2 separate regions of the Homo sapiens genome follow, and region 2 is linked to region 1. The links come from fine-mapping of genetic effects on gene expression. A gene starts in region 1. The other region holds a variant in brackets. All regions are shown on one strand. Distances are between the middles of the regions.

Evidence for each region. PIP is the estimated chance that this variant, and not a neighbour inherited with it, causes the effect. A credible set is the group of variants that fine-mapping cannot tell apart.
Region 2: its variant is the best candidate, but not a certain one, in a credible set for the expression of LINC01954 in atrial appendage (GTEx, PIP 0.63).

The regions. Positions count from the first base shown.
Region 1 is chr2:10,876,687-10,879,596 of GRCh38, forward strand. LINC01954 (long intergenic non-protein coding RNA 1954) reads left to right here and starts at 1,581. Exons shown (of 2, transcript NR_110575.1): 1 at 1,581-1,758.
Region 2 is chr2:10,872,324-10,875,233 of GRCh38, forward strand. No RefSeq gene overlaps it. Among named protein-coding and RNA genes, the nearest start is that of LINC01954, 4.5 kb to the right of the region's middle. RefSeq lists an enhancer at 1,534-1,793. The variant G/A (reference allele first, on the strand shown) is at 1,704.

The DNA.
Region 1 (2,910 bases):
CTTCCTCCTTTTTCTCTCTCTTTCCTGTGGGTTGAAATGTAGAGGTGATAAAATGAGTGAGTTTTTGTTGTGGAATGAAGATAACACCATAGGGTATTACAAAGCAATAAGACAGGAGGAACTTGAATGTTGGAAGCATTCTTTTTCTTTTCTTTTCTTTTCTTTTTTTTTTTTTTTGAGACAAGGTCTTCTTCTGTAGCCTAGACTGGAGTGCAGTAGCACAATCATAGCTCACTGCAGCCTCAACATCGTGGGCTCAAGTGATTCTCCTGCCTCAGCCTCCACAGTAGCTGGGACTATAGGTGAAAGCCACCATGCCCAGCTAATTTTTTCTATGTTTTATAGGGACAGGGTCTCACTAGATTTCCCGGGCCATTCTTGAATTCCTGACCTCAAGTGATTCTCTTACCTGGGTCTCCCAAGGTGCTGGGATTATAGACGTGACTCACCATGCCTAGCCTGAGTGCTGGAAAAGTTCTGTACTTTGACTTGGGTGGTGGTTACACAGGTGTATACACACATAAAAATTGATTGAGCTATTCTTTTAAGATTTATGTGCCTATTGCATGTAAGTTATACCTCAGCAAGAAAAAAAAGATAGAAGGAAGCTGATTCCTGGAATGCCCTTGTGGAGTGGAAGTCACCTTGGGACTGTTACAAAAGAGAAAAACAAACTCTTATAGTGTTTGGGTCATTGTCTGTAGGGGCGTTTTTTGTTCTAGCCATTTAATGTGTACCTTAATCAATATATTTATTAAGGGTAGGAATTTTTAATTTTAATTTTGACTCCATTACCCCATTACAGAGCTTGGTGAATAGAAGGTACCCAATATCTGTTTAATGAATGCATGTTTTTGTAGATGGCTTTTATCAGCATGTTAGAACATCCAGTATAAATAAATTTAGAAAACAGAAAAAATTACGACATGTAAAGGGAGGGACCTTCTTCCCCGACTTCCCAACCCACCTGACTTCTGAGTACTTCCTTTCAGTGGGATCTGGTGCAGCAGTTTTCAACTTGCTTAAACAAATGACAAGAACGTTCTGAGACAGGAAATGCTATCTGCTCGGCTGATGGTGCCAGCGTGGGGGTGAATGTTAAATGGAGTGCTTGGGGGAGACCCCTGATGCTCATGTCCCCACGACTCAGAATCAGACGCAGAATCACAGTGCTCTAGGTGCTGTTAGGCTCTAGGAACTGGGGGGAACGATCCCATCGCCAACCCTGGAGCAAGGCAGTGTGTTGTAAGAGGGGATGCTGCCGGGAGTGCTCCTGAGTCATTAAGGGAAGGCTGTGAACAGGAGGAGGAAGGGCTGACAACACAGCCCACACCCTGCTGAGCCTCCAAGGGGATGGCTCCCTCGTGCAGTCAGCAAACATTCACTCTGGGAGGACTGGGGGCTCGGCTGCAGAGAGGAGCGGCACACCCACCGCCTCTGTCCTCAAGGAGCTCCCGGTCCAGCTGCCCCCGGACAAATCCTATGTTACCAACAGTATAACAACGCAATTTTATTTACACCGACTAGATGTCCAGCACCTATCAGTAATACGCTATTTTATTTTCACAAACATCTGGCTCATAGATAATGTTTATCGATGAGAAAACAGAAATTTGAAGAGGCAAAGCAAGTTGCCCAAGGCCAAGGGAGAAGGTCAGCGTGAACTGCTACCGCCATGTTGAAGTTCATCTTCTCTTCACTGCGAGAAGCTGCCTGGACACCAGGGTGGAGGAGCTGTCAGGGCCCTCACTGTGGAAGGTGCTGGCAGAGGGTGGGGAGGTGTGGCCTGAGAGGGGCGTCCATAGTCCCTGAACTTGGCCTTCATGAATGAGTGGCGATCCAGTCAGCAGACAAAAGGTGGAATTGGAGTGAGAGTAGGGGGTCATTCTAGACAGCAGGAACAATGTGTGAGAAGGCCCAGAGCAGAGAAGGCAAGGCATGTGGCAGCTTGGTGTCACGGAAGCCTGGGGTGGGCAAGGGGCTGGGGAGGCCTGGGAGTTGAGGCCAGGGAGGCGAGCAAATGTCTGGTGGGGCCTCCCTTTGGGGTGAACCCCTACACTGGTCCAGAGGCAGAGGGTCGGTTGTCTGTCAATAGGATGAAATTCCTGTTAGTCGGGGTGCCCACTCATTCACTGAGCACGAGCAGGGGTCTCTGCGGGGCCTGGTGTTGGCCTGTGGCTTGGTGAGACACCCTCTCTGGAGGGGCACCCAGACTCTGTGGTCCCTGCCTGGCCCCTCCTTCTATGTCACCTTCCTGGGGTACCACAGATGCATGCCAAAGACCCCCACTTCTCAAAGTACGTTTCATGGCACACTGAGTTTTTTTGAGGAAAAAGGTTTGTGGTAAAATAAATGGAGACAAGGGGGTGATTGCCTCCTCCTTCTTGGAACTTCTTGCAGGTTAGCTTGTTCAAGTCTCTGAAAAGTAAAATGGTTATGGACGTTGTGTGTGTGAGTGTCCCAGTGTCCCAGTGTCCTGGGGCTGCTGTAAGAAAGCACCACGCTGGGGCTTGAGCAACAGACATCGATTCTCTCACAGTTCTGGAGGCCGGAAGTCTGAGATCCAGGAATCGGCAGGGCCGTGCCCCATCTGGAGGCCTAGGGAGGGTCCTTCCTGCTCCTCCAGCTGCTGGTGGCTGACAGTCCATGGCGTCTGTGACGTCTGTGGCATCCGTGGCACCTCAGGCTTGCTTCTGTCCTCATGTGTCTCTGTGTGTCTCTCTCCTAAGGACACAGTCACACTGGATTAAGGGCACACCCTAGTGCAGCAGGACATCTTATTTTAACTAATCACATCTTCAGCAAACCTGTTTCCAGTGAAGGTCACCTTCTGAGGTGCTGGTGAGGCAGGAGAATAGGGTTTGGAGGCGGGGAACCTAAGGCCGTTTCAAGCCGACTTCCTAGAACTGA
Region 2 (2,910 bases), 4.4 kb before region 1:
TCTGCTTTTTTCTTTTTCTTTTCTCCTTCTGGGACTCTCATTATGCATATGTTGATGCATTTAATGGTGTTCCACATTTTCCTGAGATTCTGTTCATTTTTCTTCATTCTTTCTTTTTCTCTTTTCTTCAAATTGCATAATCTCTATTGATCCATCTTCAAGTTTGGTAATTCTTTCTTTTGCCAGTTCAAATAAATCTTTTGAGCCCATCTAGTGAAAATGTCATTCCAGTTATTACTTTTCAACTCCAGGATTTCCATTTGGTTCTTTTTAAGAATTTCCATCTCTTTAGTCTATATCAATAGTCTCTATTTAGTTCAACATTGTCATCACACCTTCCTTTACCCTACTTTAATCATGGTTTACTTTACTATAATCATGATTTCCTTTAGTTATTTGAATATATTTATAATAACTACTTTGAAGTCTTTGTCAAATTTGATAGCTGGTTGCTCTCAGTTTGTGTTTCCTGCTTTTCCACTCATATATGGGTCAGATTTTCCTGTTTCTTTACATGTCATAATTTTTTGTTGGAAATGGGACATTGTAAATAATACAGCAACTGTAGAGATGGGTTCTCTTCTCCTCTGGGGCTTGTTAGTAATACTTGATTGTTTATTTGTTTAGTGACTGGCTGTGAAGTCCACCCTCCAGTCCCCACAAGTTAAAGCCTCTGATGTTGCTCCTCAGAGGCACAGCCTTGGGCATATGCACAGTTACCCTGGGTTAGCAGCAGATTTGACAGGGCTCTCTTTGATTGTCTTTTTCCCTGACCACAGCCATATGTTGTTAAACTCCACAAATTGCTGGCTGATTTCCCTGTTGTTTTCAACAATGCCCTAGGTTGCTCTATTGACTGATTCAATTAAATTTGGGCTTCTCTAAGGAATAGCTTTTTGTTGTTGTTGTTTCATTCATTAAATCATTTAGAAAATCTTTATTGACTACCAGCTCTGTGCCAGCCCCGTGGGAGGCACCAGGGATATGAGTGTTAACATGACAGCCCCAGTGCCTGCTGTTGGGCTGAACTGCCTCTGACCAGCACTGCAGACTCAGACGTATCACTGATGTGGAGACATGCTTGTGTGATATTTAAAACCTGCTGGGTAGCATTTTGGCAGAAAATGCCATTGGTACTTTCCAGATACAGACTGTGAGAGCCATTTCAGGGACCAGTTTTTTTTTTCTCCCTTCTTTCCCCCAACCAACAACCTCAACTTCTCTGGTGTGAGAGGCGGGTGCATAAAATTAGCCAGGCCAGCAAGAAAAGTGGTCATCCTGAGGCTGGCAGAAGCAGCTGAAGCTGCCCCTTCTGTGGCTTCACCCCCATCCTCCAGCTCACTGGCTCCCCGTGCCCTGTAGAGAAATCCATCCTTGAGAGGATTAGGGGCTGTGCCAAGAGCTTCACCCCACCCACCCACCCACCCACCCATCATAGTCCATTTTAGAGTGACAGCAAGGCCTTCACTGGGTAAGAGCCGTCTGACTCGTCTGCCTTCTGAGTGCCTCCATTTGGTGAGATGATAAAGTCACTGATGAGAAAAGGTGGGGCCAGGAACAGAGGCAACTGTGGCTTCCCAAGAGAAGTTTCTCAGGGGATTTCTCAAGCAGAATAAATTAGAGCTTCTTAGAATGACTCGATCCTGGCTGTGCATCAGGCAAACGTTCTCTTCATGGCTCATTTCCGGTTCTCCTGGCCTGAC[G/A]GGTGTTTCCAGATTATAGGTGAAAAGCAGTCACTTGGTCCCATACCGCATGAGGCCCACAGTTATCTTTGACAGCTGATAAGAAGTGATGATGATAAAGTCAATTCTGTTTCCTTAGATGTCTCCTCTCACAAACAAACAAGCAACCTTCACACTCCTTCCTGTGCCCTCCTGGCACCAGCACAAGCTACGTTCCAGCACAGAGCTCACTCCAAGGATAGGCAGTGCCAGCTCTTGAGCGTGGTGTGGCCTCTGCTGTCCTTAACTCTGTTGCACTTCAGCAGCACTTCCATCTCCCTGACATTGTAGACCAGGAACTTCTGTAAGCCACTAGGCCCCAGGTGCTTTGTGTTTTTGTTGCTCCCATAACCAATGTTGGGCATTAAGATCTGGCCCTTGCACCTTCTACAAACCCTGTTGTCAATACCTCTGGGTTTCCACCTGTTATGCTTCATTTTGACATACGTCTGACTGGTGCTGGATGAACTTCTTGGTCCTCTTTTTTATGATCTTGAGTTTCACAAGGGGTCTGAGGGTGGCCATGATGCCGAGTAAGAGATGGCTGCCACCACTCTAGGTAGCACCGAGAAAGAGGGGGATGGTGGCACACAAAGACTGATAGGGTGTAACCTCTCTGAGGGATAGCTTTTTGTTGTTGTTTGTGTTTTCTTTGAGACGGAGTCTTGCTCTGTCATCCAGGCTGGAGTGCAGTGGCGCGATCTCGGCTCACTATAGCTTCTGCCTCTTGGGTTCCAGTGAATTCTCCTGCTTCAGCCTCCCGAGTAGCTGGGATTACAGGCATAAGCCACCATGCCTGGCTAATTTTTGTATTTTTGGTAGAGACGGGATTTTACTATGTTGGCCCAGCTAGTCTCAAACTCCTGACCTCAGATGATCTGCCCACCTCGTCCTCCCAAAGTGCTAGGATTACAGGCATGAGCCACCACACCCGGCCTCTGAGGGATAGTTTTTAAGGTCAGTGTTTCAGATTTGTTCTTACTCTAGGAGAGATCTTTTTATCTGCTTCTTTTCCTGGTTCTTGCTGGAAAACTAGCCAACCTATGGCTTAGCTTATATCTTTAATGAATCTACTAGTCTTCTCCTAATTGCTTTTCACCACAGCCTCCATTGTGTTTGGCATTGCCTCAGCTTGGAGGAAGCCTCCTCCTTTCAGCTGTACTGGCCCAGAGCTTTGCCTCTGCCGCAA